Linked DNA regions of Homo sapiens: all the other regions are linked to region 3. Evidence: fine-mapped expression QTL. A gene starts in region 3. Each other region holds a variant in brackets. All regions are shown on one strand. Distances are between the middles of the regions. Region 1 overlaps TBC1D9 (TBC1 domain family member 9). Region 2 has its middle 40 kb from the start of TBC1D9. Region 3 holds the start of TBC1D9 (TBC1 domain family member 9). Region 4 overlaps TBC1D9 (TBC1 domain family member 9).

Region 1 (5,152 bases), 86 kb before region 3:
TGCTTTCGGATGGGAGGAAGCAGTGTGAGCTTAGCCTGAAGGATCTCTGGTTTCTGTAGCAGGGCTCAAAGATCTGATGTGACAGAATGATGGACAGGCACAAGAGCCAGGTCTGTGGACCAGTAAAGATGGATGCCTCTTCACCACTGGTCCATGGAAGTGTCCCCTTCTGTCCTTCCTGGCATCTCTGGCTTGAAGTACAAGGTATGATCTGAGTAAGCTTTTATTTCCAGTGCAGACTCTGGCCTCATCTTTATGGTTCCAATGATGACCAAAGACTTCAGGAGGTGGCAAAAATCAAACACCTGGGCCTTTTTATTCCTCTTATTTCTTTCCTCCCAATTCCCCACCCGATGACTGCTCTGAGGAAGTGTCACACTTAAACATTCTCAATGAAGTTGACGTAGCTGGGCAAGGAAAAAAGAACTACTGAAGTCACAAAGTATTCTGTTCTTTTACTTCAGGTTCTCTTTTATTCCTAAATAGCCTGACTGAAGAAATGGAAGTATTTATAAAGACTCGAAGGATGGTGGATTCAACATTTGGTCCGCTTCCTATGGGTCCTATAGTTTTACAAAGGGAACAATAATTGAGGAACTTCAATACTCTGGTGAGGAAACATGATGTAGCTTTCAACTGGGGGATGCATATTTGAAAGAACCCCTGAGGCATGACTGAAGGCACAGGGAGGCCCTGGTGTGGAGTCCCACAGACTTTGACGCCAGCATTCCCAGCCCAGCGGCCGTACCTGACAGCAGCAGCCAGAGCTCCCCACGCATGCTCTCCGGGATGCCCTTCAACACCAGCTCCCGCGTTTTCTCTGTGCGGTACATGCAGATCCCTTGCCCATACTCAGCAAAGTGAATCTTCCAGGCTTGCTCTTTCAGAAACTCTTTGGCCTGAAAGGGATAATGAAACATTATGACATCCAAAGTACCCTGAGGATGGTAAGAGAAGAGTGATGGAAGGTCAGAACATGTTCCCTGCTGAACGGAGTGACAATTCCAGAAAGAAGTCATGAGAAAAAGGAACTCAGATTTTCTGGAGTTCTTCTCTAGTTTTATACATCTATCATGGCCTACAGCTCTGCCATGAAGCTTTTGGGCCCAGAGTCAGAATCCTACTTACCTGAGATTGTATTTATGGTTTTATGTCTGCACCCCCAAGTGAAAGTAAGTTAATGATGTTTAAATATGGGCTGAGAAATCGGGTATTTATTTGTTGGTTTAACTTAAGCAAGAGTTAAAAACAAAACAAGACCAAAAGAAGTCACCTGTACCCTCTATAACTCATCTCCTTCCATGAAGCCACTGTGAAAGTTATAACATATTTAGACAAAAATCTGCTTAACTTATAGGAAAATCTCCATTTACATAGGCATGTGTGAATTTACTTACAGTAAAAAATATTGTTAATGGCATTGTTCAAATCTACAAAGTTTCAGGGAAAAGTGAGAGGCACCCACCAATTTCGGGTTGAACTCCTCGGGAGACCGCCGCCGATACATGGTCATCAGGGTCTGTGTGGCTGTGGGGACGCTGTTGCCATTTAGGTTAAACTGGCGCTCTCCATCAGCATCAGAGCTCGTGCTTCTCTGGGGGCTGGAGGAGACGAGGCTGCTGGGTCGAGAGTACACCTGTCAATACAGAGAGGAACAAGACATTGGGAGGACACGGGCAATAGAACCTACTTCTTCAGTGTCTTCTGTATGGTTATCAAAAGCTACATCATTTTTTTCCCATGGTGTTTCTTGCTATGTGAAGAAACACGAGAAAAGCAGCAAGCCATCATTTTGGCAGGGATTAGACAGGTGGCTGGGTCCCAGGCCGCAGCACTTCAATGCTCACAATAGGTTTCTGAATCTTCATGTTTTATATGTATATTTGCAACAAAGTGCTTGGCCATTTGTTTCTCTGATTTGCATGTATGCAAAGCATGTCATGGTTGAATCAGCAGCTATGGCAGCCTCATCACCCCATTGAGTTTCTGGCGCCTCAAAAATGTCCACATAAGCTTGGAGCAGGTGAACAGAGACAGAGATGTTATGTGTGAGCTTACCACCTTCGAAACATGTTTTATCTGCCATAACTTCCTCTAACCATTCAGATAGTCACCTATCTTTTCAGGCCTCCAGTGTTCCTGAATGTTGGTCCAGGGAAGAATTCCACAGGGACCCAATATGTATTCTATCATAATAAAAATCATCATAATGATTTGTATTTCAGGTTTGAGACTTTATTTAGTGACCTCTGTACCATTCTCAACAATGTCACTATATGGACCTGAGTCACTTGCTATGTAACTAGAACAGATTACTTAAGAATTTCTTCAACTATAAAATAAAAGTGTTATTCCAGGTGATCTATAAGGTTCCTTCTAAATCTATGACCCCAAATACAAAGTCCTTGAGATTTAAATGAGATATTGCTGAGATATTGCTTTGGGCGTCAGACGCAAAGCTTGAAGATCAAACAAAATGGGCAAGGAACTGAACACACTTGGGCACAGGAACAGGATAAACCAAAAATACTTTCAGGTGTCTCCCACAGACCTCATCATCTGAACTGTTGTAACTTCCTGCAAACTCCTTGTCAGAATATATTTTGGAAGTAGTCTGTTGCAGGAAATCTGAGATCCTCTGCACTAGAAAGTCTCTATCTTTCAAGTTGGCAAATAGGAAGGTCATCCTGTTTCGGGTGCTGATGGATAAGGGACTGGGGAGCACACTGGAGCTGTCTGCCTTTTCCACAATTGTCACCTGAAAAGAAGTGGGAAACAAAGAGCATTATTTTCCAAGAATTACCCAATAGCAGCCTATATGCAGCACTAAAGGAGGAAGGCGGCACTTTCATTATTCTATAGGAACCACCTATATTTTATTGA[A/G]GCAAAACTGAGACTCTTTGACTCTGTTCCAGTAAAATAAAACAGCTCAAAACAATCAAACTGGAGCTTATACTAGAAACTGGAACCGTCTTGCTGGTTTTTCCAAATCAGTGGTTCAAAATGGGACTTTTTTCCTCTCAGGAGACATCTGGCAACATCTGGAGGCATTTTGGGTTGTCACAGGTAGAGGGATACTACTGGCATCTGGTAGCAGAGTCCCGGGATGCTGCTAAACATCCTACGACACACAGGACAGCCCCTGCCATCCCACTCCACCACAACGAAAGCCTGTCCCAAAATGTCAATAGCTCCAAGGTTGAGAAACCTTGCTATAAAGGAATTATTTGATTTTCATTAAAATTTCATGGAGCTATAAGAGAGAGGGCTCCTCGCTGCTTCATCAGCCATAAGAGACAGAAAACAACCCATGATACTGGTTCCTTTTACCAAGCTTAATGTTGGAATGGTTTTCAAAACACCACCAATCCTTCAAATGTTTCATTTAGACTCCAGGGCTTTTCATCCTTCACCTTCTACCACTGCAAAGTTTTAAAGGTTCTATTCTGAACAGACATGTAAAGAATGTAAACAGCTTAATTGCAACATTATCTGAACTACCAGACTGTGTGTGTGTGTGTGTGTGTGTGTGTGTGTGTGTGTGTGTGCCGAAGCCTACCACATTGGGGAAATTTAGCTCTAAACTGAAGACATATACGGGTGATTTATAATAGGATTTTCATCAACTAGAAACTAGGATAAACGCATTAAAACTTTTCTCTTTAGCACATTAGAAAACAAATCTCAAGGCAAGCACTAGAAAAATGGTTTATTTGCAGCAGCTCTGACAATATACTTAAAGCTAAGATCTTTTTTCCCTTCTTCATTTCTACTGCAAGCAGTCTAGACAGGTTAAACTTTAAGTTGTTCATTAGCATTTTCATGTGAAATATATTTCCTTCAAAGCACAACTTAGAAATGTTTTCCCTACTCAAGACTAAGTAACCTATTGAAGTTGTCTAAAAACTCTTGCATATCTAAAAAAATAGGTCTGCCTGGGGTCCATCAAGGGAAAAAGTGTAGCATCTGACTGCTGTTTTCAGAATATATGTGTTAGAGTATATATGATTCTTTTAATATCTATATTAAATATATGTGTTAATATATGACATATAATATACATTATATATTAAACATACATTATAGAATATTAAAAATATATATTTATATATATTAAAGGAATCTTCTGAGACACCTGAAGTTGTACATAAGGATTTTCTTTCTAATGCAATAAATGCTATATAACAGAGGGAAATACCTCCTTTTCCTGAAAAGAATTTTCCCATAACACTTAAGGCATGTATTAAAGAATACTTATTTTTTAAAATCCACAAAAGCCCCTTTTCTCACATAAAATTTTTACTGGCTCTTTTGGTCATGAGGTGTCTGGGATAAATGGAAAATGCCAAGGAGATGAAAGGTTACATTATGTGTCTAAAACGCAGTTAGCTATGTGGATCTTGATAAAGTCAAAGTGAAAAATTCCTTCGTCTAGCTGGAGCATGTATGCAGAAACAAGAAAGCTCCCACATAAAACATATAAATGCTCAGACGGCTTATAAAATGTTTCTCACTGATAAATGAGTTCTAGCAGAACTCTATCACATAAGCTCCCCGCCACCAGGAAAGGAGAACAATTACATTAGAGTCTGCTACAATATAATGAGACATATTTTCATGACCAATTTGAGTTATAAAAGAGACTGCAACTTAATCAAGTCTTGGTGTTTAATATGAAACACTGGAAAGTAATTTATGAATGAAAAAAAAGGCTAGGCACGTGGCTCACGCCTGTAATCCCAGCACTTTGGGAGGCCTAAGTGGTCAGATCACTTGAGCTCAGGAGTTCAAGACCAGCCTGGCCAACATGATGAAACCCCATCTCTACTAAAAATACAAAAATTAGCTGTGGGTGGTGGCGCATGCCTGTAATTCTAGCTACTCAGGTGGCTGAGGCAGGACAATCACTTGATCCCAGGAGGTGGAAGAGGAGGCTGCAGTGAACCAAGACTGTGCCACTGCACTCCAGCTTGGATGACTGTGTGAGAGACCCCATATCAAAAAAAAAAAAAAAATTCCTTCTCTTGCTGGCTTAATAATTTCTTCAAAATCTATAGCAACATGATCCTGGATAAATGCTTAACATCTGTTGACTGGGTCTACCTTAAGTCAATATGTAGAATGTGTGTTAAAAACCTCCAGTCAATATTTC
Region 2 (5,152 bases), 40 kb after region 3:
TACCCCGGTGGGGGTAGGTAGCTCCACATAGGAAAAGGATCAAGAAGAAAAATTCAGCAAGGAAGCGGGGGCAGGGGAGAACTAAACAAACAAGTCAAATGTGAAGAGGGTTGCTGTGTATTGTGTTACGATTTCCTATCCCTTCTCCCAATGGCCATATCCTAATCACCCTCATTCAGCAAATCCCATTATAGTCCTTTCTATTTCAGAAAATATTTTTAATCAATCATTTTAAACAGTTAAAAACTAACAAATATGCCTACTGTGCATCAGGGGTTTTTTAGGTTATTTAAAAATACTTGAACCCTCATAATAACACTCTGAAGTAGGAACATTATTCTTACTTGATTATTGAGGAGACTGATGCAGAGAAGATAAACAGCTCAAAGTCACATGGGTAGAAAGTGACAAATCTGGGCTTCAAATTCATAGTCTGGCTTCTGTGTCTATGCTTTTAGCCACTGCGCTGTGTTGCTTCTCTTACATTTTTACATTAGATCTTTATTAAACATATAAAAATGAATATAATATCCTGGTAAAAAAATTAAGTCATTATAAATAAAATCATTTCTGGACTGTTCCCCATCCTCAATTCTGGCTCTTTTTCTGTTTAGAGAGAATCATATCTTTGCACAGCTTTTATCTCCTATATACTTTCATGCATGTGTATACACACATGTCTATGCATACACATATACACACACGTATATAAGTACAAATATATATATCCACATACATATATGTGCACACATATATGTATATGCATTACATATAATTGTAGAAAATACATATTGTTTGTGTGTTTAGTTTTTTACTTTGTATTACTCAACAATGTGTCTTGGAGATCTTCCTTGTCTACGTATAATACAGCTGCATTTTTAAAAATTGTTGCGTTATTTCATGGTGCAGATACATTATGTCTTATATAAGCAAACCCCTAATGAGAATGGAACATTTAGGTCTTTTCCCCCTATTTCATACTCTTTCAAACAGTGCAGCAGCAATGACCGTCTTTGTACATATTTCCTGTGTGTGCAGATGAGTATTCCAGCCTATGTTGTTTTTGGGTACATCATCTGCTATGACAGGCTCAGGAGGACCTGATATAATCAGGTAACTCTATAGCAACAGGATGCTTTATTTTTCATATTTTCTTAGAATGATAAAACTTAATTCCTTTGGGCCCTGATATTGATTTAGAGGTCTTAAAGTTTTCTCTTAAATTGTCTCACTTGTTTTTAGGCTAAAGTTTCCTGTTATTTCTTTCTAAACTGAATATGAGGCTCTTTAACAGAACAGACAGAGCAAAATTGGAACTGCATATTTCTGCCTTTTCGTGACATGAACTTTGTGTTGCCAGTGACAATTTTGATTTATAAGATAATGTACACAGGCAAAAAGTAGAAAATATATTTTAAATGTCCAATTTTTTTCAAGAAATAATAAAAAGTACAATGCAAGGAGGAAATTATTATCAACGTATTTCTAGGGAAGTAAAAGGTTAATGTATTGCAAAGCTTATCAAAGACTGTTAGTTGTTCCTCAGTGTCATGGGTCTAATCATGCACCCTGAAAATTCCTATGTTGAAGTCCTAACCCCCAATACCTAACAATGTGGCTTTATTTGGTGATAGGATGTTTACAGAGGTAATCAAGTTAAAGTGAAGAGGCCATTAGGGTAGAACCTAATCCAGTATAACTGGTGTCCTTGTAAGAAGGGGAAATTTTGGTCAGAGATACACACAGAGGGAAGACAACATGAAGAGACAAAGGGAGAAGATGGCAGTCCACAAACCAAGGGGAGAGGCCTGGAACAGATTTTTTTTCTCTCAGAGCTTTCAAGGAATCAAGCCTGCAGACACCTTGATCTTGGATTTCTAGTCTCCAGAGATAGTAAGTTTCTTTTTTCTTTTTTCTTTTTTTTGAGATGGAGTCTCACTCTGCCCCCCAGGCTGGAGTGCAGTGGCGTAATCTTGGCTCATTGAAACCTCTGCCTCCTGGGTTCAAGCGATTCTCCTGCCTCAGTATCCCGAGTAGCTGGGACTACAGGCGCGCCACCATGCCCGGCTAATTTTTATGGTTTTTTTTTTTTTTTTTTTTTTAGTAGAGACATGGTTTCACAAATATTGGACAGGCTGGTCTCAAACTCCTTGCCTCATGATCCACCTGCCTCGGCTTCCCAAAGTGCTGGGATTACAGGTGTGAGTCACTGCACCTGCCCTGAGATAGTAAGTCTTTTGTTTACGGCCACCCAGTTTATGGCATTTTGTATGGCAGCTCTAGCAAACAAATACATATACTCAGTATACATACATCTTATCATAATCAGCTCCAGCAGTGGCCTCCAATGTGCCATGCGCCCTAGGACCTACACCTGATCAGTCTCCTCCCCTTGC[A/G]TCTGTGCTAGGCCTGAGGCTTGTTTTAACTCATAAAATGTGGTTGAAGTGAGGCTGTGCCAGGCCCTAAGCATTAGGAAGGTCTGGCACTTAAAGTTTTGCACTTTGGGGAAGCCTAGGCTGCCATTTAAGAAGTCAGGCCACCCTTTAAGAGAGATCATGCAGAAAGGTCTTATGGAAAGGGAGAGACCTGAGTCTTTATGGAGAGACCTTTCTATATGGAAAGGCCCAACACTCCACGCATGCCAGCTGAGGTCAGTCTTCCAGCCGTCCCTACCAAGGCACTGCAGATGCGAGTGAGCATGTTGGACATGATAGCTGCAACCATCATCTGACTTTAATTGCCTGGGAAACTCTAAGCAAGGTCAGTAGAGGGACTGCCCATTCAATTCACATAATTATGACCGATAATAAAAAGTTGATATATTTTAAGCCACTAGGTGTTGGAAAAGTTTGTTACATAGAAATACATAATTGAAATATTCCCTTCTTCTACAGCAATAAGACTTCCAAGAGACCAGCAGTGGTATGTCTTACTTCCCAGACATGTTCTTAAATCTCTTTCCTGCTTCTTCCTCCAACCTGCTTTATGGAATGTGGTCACAGGATCCACCCTAGACAATATGCATGTACTATCCTAGAGACAGCTGAGTAACCAGGTTAAAGGAGCCTGGGTCCCTGCTATGCCAGTCCCAGACTATTACATGGAAGAGAAATGAACTCCTTGTTTACTGTTATTTTGGGCTTCAGTTACAGCAACTTTGTCCATATTCTAATTAACATATAAGGGATGAAATGTTTTACAATCTTTTTCTTAGTAGGTTTCTCAGCATGTTTTACAATCTTTTTATCAGGAGGCCATTTTTCTACACTGAAGTAAATTAGGACATTGTTTCAAATGAAAGAAAAGGAATTAAAGGATGAGAACATGAGATCATATATGGAGACATATGACAAGATTTCTTCAGGTTGAAGGCCAGGCACGATGACTCACGCTTGTAATCCCAGCACTTTGGGAAGCTGAGGCGGGCAGATCACCTGAGGTCAGGAGTTTGAGACTAGCCTGGCCAACTTGGCGAAACCCTGTCTCTACTAAAAATATAAAAATTAGCCGGGCGTGGTGGCGCATGCCTGTAATCCCAGCTACTTGGCAGGCTGAGGCAGGAGAATCACTTGAACCCGGGAGGCAGAGGTTGCAGTGAGCTGAGATTGCGCCATTGCACTCCAGCCTGGGCAACAGAGCAAGACTCTGTCAAAAAAAAAAAAAAAAAGTCTCTTCCTTCTGTTTCATTGAAGCTAAAGTTCAGTTCCTGCTGGACTCCTTCCCTATAGCGATAGTTATTACTGAATAAAATCTATCCTTCTGGCTTTAGCTAGTGTCCAGCTTAGTTCGTCTTTGACAGTCAGATTGTTGCTTGCATTCAGCTTTTCCTGTTCTCCGTAGCCCTTGACTTGGTCTCATTCCTTATCACATTTTCGTACTGAAAATTGGAAGAGCAATGGTCAGACTCTCCTGAGAAAGGATGAACCTGGTTCACTCTGAAGCACAATAGAGGGTGTGTGTTAGCATCTGGCTAGGTTGTAGTCATTAGCATATTATCTGATTTTTTTTTTCTGAATGGTTGACTCAATGTTGGGTAAGACTTAATAAAAATTCATTTTATCTGCTCTCCTTTTTCTCTCTTTCCCTCAATCTTTACAGTTTTCCCCCCTTAACCTTGCATCAGGGTGTTCCCAGGATATTGTGTCGGGGGTCTTAACTTACATTTGATGTATGAAATGAAATGCATTTTCCCAACATAGCTATGCTTAAGTAGAGCAAACTTCTGTGTTTTAACCCTCCCCTTTTTATGCCAGTTGAGTAGGGAGGAAGGAACATCCAGAGTAGAAGCCTCTGGGACATTGCTCCCTTGAGATTCAGGGTGAAGACTAATATCATTAGTCAAGGCCAGATGTGACTGGGTTTCTTGCCAAGAGATTGGTGAGAGCTTATCTGGGGATGGAATGACTTGACTGGACGTCTTGCCAACCCTGGAGTAACCCTTGTTGGCGGGGGGGAGATCCAGTGTTAGAACCAACGAGCTGGAGGTTGTGGGTGAGCACGGAGTCACACCATCTGCAATTCAAGTCAGTGACTGTGGATCTCCCAGACTCCCCTGCCCATCCGAAAGTGCCCATGAGCTGTGGTTATCAAGGACAAACTACCAGATGGGTGACTGTGCCAGCAGGACCAGCAAAATGGAAGCTGAGGAGCTGAGGAGCCTAACACCAACCACAAAACCCAAACTTCCCAGAGAGATGAAATTATTCACCCAGAAACCACACAGGAGATGCTGCAGGACACTTTGAAATGTACTTAGTGAATACCCGGGAAATTTCACCTATGCTGCAGGCACTGTGTTAAATGCTTTGTGTACGTGATCTCATCTGATTCTCTCAATATCCTAAGTGGGTAAGTTCCATTACTACCCCATTATAAAGAAAATGGAGCTGAGAAAAGGTACGTAATTTATCTAAGGGTGTACTCTTTTTTTTTTTTTTTTTTTTTTTTGAGTCAGGGTCTCGCTCTGTCACCCAGGCTGGAGTGCAGTGGCACGATCTCGGCTCACTACAACCTCCACCTTCTGGGTTGAAGTGTTTCTCCTGTCTCAGCCTCCCGAATAGCTGGGACTACAGGTGTGTGTCATCACACCTGGCTAATTTTTGTATCTTTAGTAGAGCTGGGGTTTCATTATGTTGGCCAGGTTGGTCTCATC
Region 3 (5,152 bases):
CAACATTAGCACTTCTAGAAGTTGCCAACAAATATTTGTTAAATGATTTAGTGAGTTAGTGAATGAATGAACTTACATTAGAATCAGAATATACTACACATTGTGTAACATTTCTAAAATGTTCCTGCTACATTTGACATGGCACCAAGGTATTAGACCAAACATTTTACCTCTCTTGCTTGAAAATAGCCTTTGTTGTCATAAATACTTTTACTCATGACAATGATTTCAATTATTCCATTAATAAGTGCAATCACTGTGATTTCTCAATTTACAAGATGTAATTTTACCTAAGTGAAAGAAGTCATTGATGACAAGATGAGATTTCAAGTGGACCGTAGTCAGTTATAGCTCTAAGAACCAGTAGGAACACAATACAAATGTTAAGCAGAAAAAGAAGGCTCTGAATCCCTGAATTTTTCACATCCTATTACAAATGACACAGGTAAATGAATACTTAATGCTTACAAGGTGTAGGAGGGTTAATTGCAGAAGGAAATGTTCTCTTTTTACTACAATAAATTATCTACTCTGTGTTGTTGTCCTAGGCTTAAAGGACTACATGGGCCGGGTGAGGTGGCTCACGCCTTTAATCCCAGCACTTCGGGAGGCCAAAGTGGGCGGATTATTTGAGATCAGGAGTTCAAGACCAGCCTGGCCAACATGGTGAAACCCCATCTATTAAAAATACAAAAAAAATTAGCCGGGCGGGTTGGTGCATGCCTGTAGTCCCAGCTACTCAGGAGGCTGAGGCAGGAGAATCACTTGAACCCAGGAGAAGGAGGTTGCAGTGAGCCGAGATCACGCCACTGCACTCCAGCCTGGGCGACAAAGCAGGACTCTGTCTCAAAAAAAAAAAAAAAAAAAAAAAAAAAAAGGACAATGTGGGCTGATTCCAATATTAGATATGTAAATTACATATTAACATTTAGAGTTAGATAACTTCTACAAAATGACCTGGAAAATCCTGGTATCAGATCACTAGTAAGTATTTCCAGAATGGGGTCTGGAGCTCTGCAGATTTATCTTTTCTGGTAGAATCAAGATCCTTCAAACATACCAGTATACATTGTACCACATGACACCTGAATTTTAATCTTAAGAAAATTAGTTTATAAATATAATCATAAGTAAATACATATATCAAGAATCTTTATTTCATAGCACAGCATTTGAAAGCAACAATTTACCTATTGTGCAAACTCCAGGTGATATATGAGGTTGATATAAGCTCAACTCTGAGGAGGGTCAAAGTTCATCTCTTTTTTGCAGTCTCCTTTCTAGTGAAACCTCTACTATTTCTTCTGCTAACTTTTTCACTGTAAAAAGTATTCCAGTTCTGTTCATTCTAAATAACACAGAGATGGAGAAGGTCCAATTTCTCTAGTATGGTATGAGTTCGAGATTATTTCTAATATGGCACTACTTTGGATATGGGTCTGACTGATCTTATTATCCTGAATGATATGACATGGCTTCAGCAACAATTACAATAATACCTTGAAGGGAGGGGGTTTAGGGAAGAAGTGATTGAGCAAAAATAGTTAAAATGCAGTTATACAGCCAATTATTTTTACAACTAGAACCAGACAATTTGCTTTGCTTTATGTCTAATTAGGTGAAACAAAAAAATTCCTGTTTCCGTATTCATTCTCTTCGGTCATAACTCATATAGGAAATGACCACATCAGTTCCTTACTTATCGCTTCCCTGGAAACAAAAGAGCATTTTATACCTGATCCTGCTGTTGCCAGTAAAGAAAGTGGAGCAAAAATTAACCTTCTTCCATCCCTCTTTTCCATTTGGAAAACAATATTTTTAAGGGGGGGAGGGGAAGGGAATGATGCATTCAATATATAGGGGATAATACATTCCCTCCGCCCCAGACTCACTCTTTCCCATTCTCCTCAACATATCCACTTAAAGAGCGCTCAGTACGCTGAGGGCCCCAAGCCTGACAGAGTCAAAAAAAGAAGCATCTCTGCCCAACCTGAACATCACGACTCTCGATGCCTCGCATACAACGAGGCAGGGCGGGTCGCCCAGCCCCAGGGGACCGGGCGGCGTCTCCCGAGCCTGCAGCCCAGGCCGCGGGCGGCGCCGCAGCGCTCCCGGCTCCCCTCCTGCAGGGATCGGCCACGGTCCTTACCCGCCAGTCCGCCGCCGCCGCCTCCATCGCCGGCGTGGCCCTTCCTCCGCTGCAGGATGAAGTATGGGTTGGCCCTCTCGGTGATCCACAGCGCGTTGGCCAGCAACACCTCCTCCGGGTTCACCCACATGGTCCTGGCTGCCGCGGGCGGGCGCACAATGGGCCCGTGGGTCCAGTCCTGCACCCACCACCGCGACAGGCGCGCACTCCTGGGCACACGCGCGCCCGCCCGCCCGTCCGCTAGGTGCGGCGGCGGCGGCGGCAGGCGACTTCAGGGGGTGGCCCGCGGCGTCCGGGCCACAACAAAGCCCCAGCAGGCGGCCCGGGAGGACGGTGAGGACGCGGGCGCGGCAAGCAGCATCCTCCCCGCGGCGTCGCCGCCCCGCGAGAGCCCGCGGCCGCAGACGCCCGGCCTGGCACTCTGCAGCCCGGCTCCCGGCCCACGGCGGCGGGAGGAGCGGGAGGAGGAGGAAGAGGAGGAGGAAGGGAGCGGGAGGAGGAGGAAGTGGTATAGCTCAGTCCCGGGATCCGGCTCAGCGCCAGGCAGGGCTAAGGGCCACCCGAGCGGATTCGGCCCCGCGGTCAGGGCCAAGCTGGGCTCCGGCGCTGCTGCTCCCGCGGCGCCGACTGGAGCTCCAGAGCCCCTCCCGTCTCTACCTGCTCGAGCTCCCGAAGTCGCCGCGCCTTAACGCGCCGTGTCGGGGCCGCAGGCGCCACTAGGGAAGCCCAGCTCCCCGCTGGAAGGACGCTCCGGACACTGCGAATGAATGACGACAACGCGGCTCACTTGGAGCGGGTCCGGGTTTGTGCGGACTCGGTACCACCGCGGGCTCCGCGCGCCGAGCTGAGCAGCTGTGGCTGGCTTCGGGGGAACCTTCGGGGGAAGCTCCTGGGGACCGTGTGCCAAGCACTGGGCCCGACGCCCATCCCAGCAGGGAGGACGCCGCCAGCCTGCGTGGGTGCGTGTGTGCTGTTTGTGTTTAAGGTTGACGCTCTATGGGATAGCGCCACCCCTTTTCCCAGGAAAAGTGTTTCAAGGTTCCAGACCTGGAGCTCGGTTAGAGACCCGGGGTCGGAAGCCAACGCAGCCAATGGTCGTCGATGTTTTTGTTTCCTGCATCCCCAGGGCAAGTCATGCGCTAAACTTGTCACCGCTTGTGACCCCTCCCCCCTCTCCATTCCATTGTAATTAAAGTGGCCTAGCTAAGTGCATTACATCACTTCTTTCCTTGACCTGTAGGGCGTGAGCAATAGAGAAGTTGGAAGCGGCCCAAAAGCTTAGACCAACTAATTCACACCACAGCTGTTCCTATATCGCATTTGGGGCTTCGAAAACTGGGCATGGCAGAATTTTAAAATTTATCCACTCTTGGTAGATGGATTTTTTTTTTAATCAGTGAAACCAGAAACACACAAACCAGGGCAGCTTTATCCCTAGACAGTTTCAGTTTCCCCAAATACTTCGAGCTTCCAGTGGTGATCACAGCCCATCTGCCTACATATCTGATGACCATTTTTTTTTCCTCCCGCCCAGGAGATCTGGAGGATAGTTCAGCCAAAAAAAAAAAAAAAAAAAAAAAAAAAAAAGTTCCTCTTCCCAAATGATGGGAATTTAGCAGACTCTGCTTTGTTGTGGATGCTGGGCAATCCTAGGGACTTTTCCCTTTCCAAATGAGCAGAGATTCAAATGAAACCTTCTTGTGTGGGCTTCAAAATTGTGACTTTTGTAGCTCCGACTTGAATTGTTGAATTCCTTCAATTAGTCGAATGAGCAAATCACCAGCCATTCTAATGAGACTGCCATTTCATCTGTTCGCTTCCTACCGCTTGGGCTCTCAAGGAATGGAAGTTTCCCTTGATGTTACCACACAGACTGATCTGCTTCTTCCAGGCATCAGTGGAAACCTCATGTATTTAACACAGACTCAAAAAACTCATTTGGCACTTTTGGTCACAGTGCAGTGCCTTCAGTCACAAAATCTGCAAATAAAAAGCAAACAATAAGATTATAAGTCATACATATGCAAAAATTATATTAATATATCATGTAACTTTTATATTTTTGAAGTGTTTCCATAGGTATTCTTTTACTTGATATAATTGGTATTTTTAAAAACTCTAAGTGCCTTAATACCATGTTGGGGTTTGGAAAATGATACCACAAAGCATGGTGCTTTGGCATGCTGAGTACTTTGAACTAAAGGAGATTGAAAGGCCTCAGAAGCAGTTTCTCTCTGACCTCCTTCTGCCCTCCTGTCTCCCACCTCTCTTTCTCCCCCAAAGTGAGTCATGGAAACTAAAGGCAGGTCATAGAAACTAAAACCCCTCTTCCCAAAGGAAGCTACAAAACCTAGAAATATTACCATTCCTCACTCTTCTGTGTAAGAGCAGACATAAAGAATAGAGAAATAAAGAAATTATCTACCCTACCTTGTTGGATAGTAGGTCCCCTTTCCAAAGGAGTCCTGCTCTAAACCCAGGAGGAGGGAAAGCTATACGGAGAGGCCAAGAAGAATCTGAACAGACAGACTGGGTCTGTTCTCAGTCTATTACCATTGGATCTTACCCTTTTGTCCAACCACATCTACATGGCTGCCCACTCTTCATTGAACCTAAGCACAAAAATGGACAGAGCGAGACTCTCTCAAAAAAATAAACAGGCTGGGCATGGTGGCTCATGCCTGCAACCCCAGCATTTTGGTAGGCAGAGCCAGGAGGACCCCATCTGTATTAAACCAGAGAGACCCCATCTCTATTAAAAAAAAATAGACAGGTTTCCCTGGGTTTTTCCGTCTTCATTTCTGAAGGTTCCCATGTCACCTAAAACTTTGATTAAACAAATGTGTTGTGCTTTTCTCTTGTTAGCCTGTCTTTTGTTATAGGTGTGTTGGCTATGACCCTTATGGGAAGGAAAGATATCACACCTTTTCCCCTACAACAATCTTTTGTTTTTGTTTTGTTTGAGACAAAGTCTCGCTCTGTCACCTAGGCTGGAGTGCAGTG
Region 4 (5,152 bases), 39 kb before region 3:
CCTGTCTCAAAACAAACAAACGAACAAACAAACAAAGCAAGTCTGTTTTGTCAGTCTTAAGATCTCTGTTTTAATATTAATACTGGTCAGTTGTGCCTGAATTCCAAAGGAAGGAGAGTATAATGAGGCATGTCTGACCCCCCTTTCTCATCACGGCCTGAACTAGTTTTTCAGGTTTACTTTGGAATCCCCTTGGCTGACAGAAGGGGTCCAATCAATCAGTTGGGGGAGCTTAGAATTTTCAGTTTATACCCTCCAGTTATCTTGCTTCTGGTCTTTCAGACTGGCTGCAGTTTGCATACATCCTGGTAACAAAGCCCAGCAAGTTGAATTCATAGTACCTTGAATGACTCCTGTTCCTTATAACCCAAAGTGACCAACAAAAACCCTAACTAACCCCTTTGGCTCCATCTGGATAGGCTCTTTGAGTAAATGTTCCCTTCCACACTATAGCAAGTTATATAAGAAGGTGCAAAGGCATTAACAGCAATAATGTTTTCCAGTCTTGCATCCAAATATTCTAACACAGATAAAAATAGTGGCTACAGACTGTAATTAAAACAATCATGCTATTTGCAAGGGAGAGATACAGTAGCAGCCTGGCTTGATTCCTGGGAGTTTCGTGGAACCTCATCACTTTGAGGGCAAGCAACTCCACCTGCATTCCATTTCTATCTTAGCCTTTATCCACCTGGATAAGACTGAGGGACCTCACAGACAAATTTCATTTTGTGATGGATAACGTGGGAGCAATCTTCAGCTAAAGTCTAGATAAAGCCTTAAAGAGAAAATTGAGCTCGGAAGACCTGAAAATAAAGAAAACACCCTGGCACCAACAAGGGAGAGAAACAAAACAAAGAAGCTCACCAAAGATGGTTTGACTGTGCAAAACCATGGGTACGGTAACCAGTAACACCCTTATTTTATCAAGATGTCTATTGTAACAGGATGTGTTTTCAATAAATGTAAATGACCTGTAAATGTAGATAAGTCCCTTACAGAATATATTAGGCCCAACTGAAATTTTCTAAGTAGTTTAGTCATGGCCTGAAGATAGCTTGAAACCTGTTTTGAAAAACATTGATAATAGGTTGGACACAGTGGGTCATGCCCATAATCCCAACATTTTGGGAAGCTAAGGAAGGAGGATTGCTTGAGCCCAGGAGTTGGAGACCAGCAAGGGCAACACAGTGAGACTCCTATGTCTACAAAAAGTTTTTTAAAAATCAGCTGGGTGTAGTGGAGCTTGCCTAGAGTCCCAGCTACTTGGGAGGCTGAGGTGAGAGAATCCCTCGAACCTGGAGATGGAAGTTGCAGAGAGCCATGATCGTGCCCCTGTACTCCAGCCTGGGTGACAAAGCAAGACCCTGTCTCAAAAAAGAAAAAAAAATATCAATAATGGATGAGAAGAAATCATCATTGGCAATAACAAAAGTAGTGTACTAGAGTTGGGGGCCCTTCTTTGCAAAGTAATTACAAAGTCATTTCCAGGAAACCATTCTCTTTTCATGCTATAAACTTGTCACAACAGAGGGGTAGGATACCAACAGTATCACTGACTCCTTACATCCTCAGTTAGAAACTGATGAGCAAAAACACAAGGTGGGAGAAATTATTTTTATATTATTGATTAGTGAATGGGGAAATTTAAAGTAATGAAGAACTTACGTTTTTTTCACCCTTAATTATATTGTCTACACCTAGTTCCTTAAAGCAAAAATCACACACACACCCACACCCTCTACAACCCACTATGCTGATTTAAAACATGCTCATTTAAACTGAGTTTAGAGTAATGGGGGCTGTAAAAAAAAAAAAAACACAAACAACAACAACAACAAAAAAAGCAACTCCAGGTTTGGTCTCAACCTATCTCTGCATTTAATAAAACAATAATACAATGAAAGACTTGGGTTATATCAAAATAAATATTTTGAAACTTTTTAAAAGACAGTCACCTGCAAGAATTTATTTTATGCCAGTGTTTCTCAAAGAATATCCTCTTTGAATAAACAAAGGTTTCACTTTCTTCCTCACGTTCTGTTACATCACCCTAAATAAAAGTCATAATCCTTTAGAGAATCAACATATGTTACCTGAACCAGGAGATGCAGACAGGAGCTTTTGCCCAACTTTCCTGTCTTGTTTTGGAGCCGGAGTTGGGAGAGGGGTCAGGAAAGAGAGAGGGAGAGGGGAAAAGCCCAAGTTGTTGTTTTTAAAATTTTCCAGTTATAAAAACAACAACATTTAAGCTGCTTCTTCTAACCGTAGAGGCCTTCCTGTTCAATAACTATGACATAAATGATTCAATAATGGCAATGATTCTTTGTTAATGGCTAATTCACCATGCATAATCCTTTTAGACATGACTCAGCTTTCCTGTTGGGACAATATTTCATTTATGACTATCAAATTAATTTATCTGAAGCATATACTGGGTACAATAAACCTTCACTTTCAGCTGAAAATGGGCAAGGGCAGCACTAGGCATC[T/C]CATCTCAGAACTTGCTGGCTTCAAAACTTTTCCTTTGCTGGTGGAAGGCCGGGGCCTCTATGAAATCTAGAACACAGATCAGGGAAACAGATTCTTTCTACAGCTCAGGTGCAGCGTGAAGATTATGTGATTGGGACAAGTATGTGTTTCATGTTCTCAGGGTTCCCACTGGGTAGAACACAGTGCAGTCATGAAAGACAGACTGGAAAGCCATGGTATCCCCAGGAGCCCCCCAACTTATTTCTTTAAGTCTACAGGTCACAACTTCCCAGTGGTACCCCAGGAAATGATGACAAGCTAGCAATATACTTGTTCTCTTGGCTCTTAGGATACCTTTTGTGCCCTGCAAACACTATCATTTTCTAAGTATGCTATGATATGAAAATAGGTAGAAAGCTCTGTATTAGAACAAATAAAGCATAAAAGCATTTTAGATAATAGTGCTTTACTCTACAATATTTCTATACATTTAATTTCAATGCATACTGATGGGATTCAATTGAGTAATTAGTATATACTAATTCAATTGAGTAAATAGTATATAGTTTCCCCATAGTTTGCTTTTAAAAAGTTAAATGAAATATGCTTTATTTTATTTAAATGTGATATACCTAGTTTTTTTTCTGTTCCTTTTTTCAGAAAAAAAAAAAAAAAAAGTACATTCAGCTATGCACATTGGGAGGTGACTCACAGGACATTTGCCTGATCTTTATGCTAGTTCTTTGAACATTTTTATTAAGACAGAACAATCCCCTCTTTGCAAAAGTGTGAGGATCTCTGGTCTTCATTACTCTCTCCTCTGAATGAACCCTGAGGAAAACAGAGTCAGAGCTACCCTATATAATCCTCCATGTAATAATTACCCCACATAAACCCAGGGCCTCATACCTCCTTAGCTCTTCCCAGACAGTCCAATGAATAAGCAACAACAATGACTGAACATTTTCACAACGAACAAGCCACATGATTAGGAAATTACCAACATGGCTATTTTCAAATAATTTCCAGAAGATCACCAGGGAAACCCCTAGAAAAACTAAGCTCATTTAACTTAAATCCGAAAGAGCACCCAGCAGTCTAAGGAAAAACATTTAGATGTTTGTTCTGGCCTATTTCTATGACAGCAATAAGAATGTCCCTAATATTCCTACCTAGTGTTGTGTAAAGTAATCAGAGAAAGTGGATTCAGTCTTGGCCTGGTGGCTCACACCCGTAATCCCAGCACTTTGGGAGGCCAAGGTGGATGGATCACTTAAGGTCAAGAGTTCAAGACCAGCCTGGCCAACATGGCAAGGCTGTTTTTATTTTTGTAAAAACACAAAAAAAATTTGTATTTTTAGTCTCTACTAAAAATACAAACATTAGCTGGCTGTGGTGGGTGCCTGTAATTCCAGCTGCTCGGAGGCTGAGGCAGGAGAATCACTTGAACCCAGGAGACAGAGGTGACAGTGAGCTGAGATCATGCCACAGCACTCCAGCCTGGGCGACAGAGCAGGACTCCATCTCAAAATAAATAAATAAATAAATAAATAAATAAATAAATAAATAAATAAAAGAAAGTGGATTCAAGTCTTCATTTCCCCACTCACAAGCTGTGTGGCTTCAGACAAGTCACTTAGCTTCTCTGAGTCATAGTTTCCTGCCACTACATCAGGGATATTTCATCTTCCCTGCTAGTCTCCCAGGGCTGCTGAGAAACAGATGACATACTGTGTATGGGAGTGCTTCAAAAACTGTAGAGTCTCTCACTCATGTAATCTAACTAGGATTTTTCTTTAAATAATGCTTAATTTTGGAGCAGGGAAGGAGCGTCAAGACATAAACTTGCATCTTCTTTTTCTACAGAGAAGGAAGCTGGGCACTGGAAGGAAGTGCTTGCTAAAGTTATGTTCTGAATCCCAGGAAGTAGTCACCATGATTATTAGTGTCTAGAAGAGGTAAAGGAAAAATATGGCCTTAGTCCTGGAGGCATGATGTGATTTCATCCTTAGCATCATGAAATAGACACTGAGCACCTGTGGAGAGGAAGCTTTGCTGGGCACTAGAAATATAATCTATCACTGATGTCTTTGAGAATAGGATCTGGCTGCGAAGAAAGAAGCAGCACATACAAATAGCAATCATTAGAATGGTCATTTGCTCAGTCAGTTCAAGGGTACATAGCTCAAGGGTAATACAGAAGATGTTACACGGTACTTACCCAAGGCTGGCATACTCATGCAGGAGACTGTTTTGAACTGCCTCCTGGAGTTGGGTTTGGTGGAAGGTAGCTTTTCAAAACCACAGGCTTTGCATTAAGAACCTGGGTGGAATCCCTGTTCCACTGCTTCCTAGGGTCATGACCTTGGGGCAAGCTATATAACTGATAAAAACCACAATTTCTTCACCCACTTAATGAAGATAATAGTATCTTCCTGAGAGGTTGTAATGAGGATTAAAGGAAATATTGCACATGAACCAATTTTGCACAGCACCTGGCACTTGGTAGGTGTTCAATAAATAGTACCGATTGCGGTGGCTGAAGGCAGCCCCCAAGGTGGGAAGGCACATGGGATGTGTGGGGAGCAGTAAGTCCATCAGCTCAATAGCAAGGGAGTGCTTGAAAGGTTTGGGATAGACATCAGATTGTGGTGGGCAGCCTCAAGATAAACTGCTTAAA

What was found. PIP is the estimated chance that this variant, and not a neighbour inherited with it, causes the effect.
Region 1: its variant is the best candidate, but not a certain one, in a credible set for the expression of TBC1D9 in nasal epithelium (TOPMed, PIP 0.56).
Region 2: its variant is the best candidate, but not a certain one, in a credible set for the expression of TBC1D9 in whole blood (INTERVAL, PIP 0.57).
Region 4: its variant is the best candidate, but not a certain one, in a credible set for the expression of TBC1D9 in whole blood (INTERVAL, PIP 0.80).

The regions. Positions count from the first base shown.
Region 1 is chr4:140,668,169-140,673,320 of GRCh38, forward strand. TBC1D9 (TBC1 domain family member 9) reads right to left here. Exons shown (of 21, transcript NM_015130.3): 7 at 2,552-2,758; 8 at 1,466-1,636; 9 at 749-899. Among named protein-coding and RNA genes, the nearest start is that of TBC1D9-AS1, 41 kb to the right of the region's middle. The variant A/G (reference allele first, on the strand shown) is at 2,884.
Region 2 is chr4:140,793,641-140,798,792 of GRCh38, forward strand. No RefSeq gene overlaps it. Among named protein-coding and RNA genes, the nearest start is that of TBC1D9, 40 kb to the left of the region's middle. The variant A/G (reference allele first, on the strand shown) is at 2,397.
Region 3 is chr4:140,753,767-140,758,918 of GRCh38, forward strand. TBC1D9 (TBC1 domain family member 9) reads right to left here and starts at 2,619. Exons shown (of 21, transcript NM_015130.3): 1 at 2,150-2,619. The coding sequence starts at 2,279. RefSeq lists a silencer at 1,972-2,661 and enhancers at 2,317-2,959, 2,960-3,601, 3,092-3,141.
Region 4 is chr4:140,715,116-140,720,267 of GRCh38, forward strand. The region is part of intron 1 of TBC1D9 (TBC1 domain family member 9); the gene reads right to left. TBC1D9-AS1 (TBC1D9 antisense RNA 1) reads left to right here. Exons shown (of 2, transcript XR_007058283.1): 2 at 681-981. Among named protein-coding and RNA genes, the nearest start is that of TBC1D9-AS1, 5.5 kb to the left of the region's middle. The variant T/C (reference allele first, on the strand shown) is at 2,493.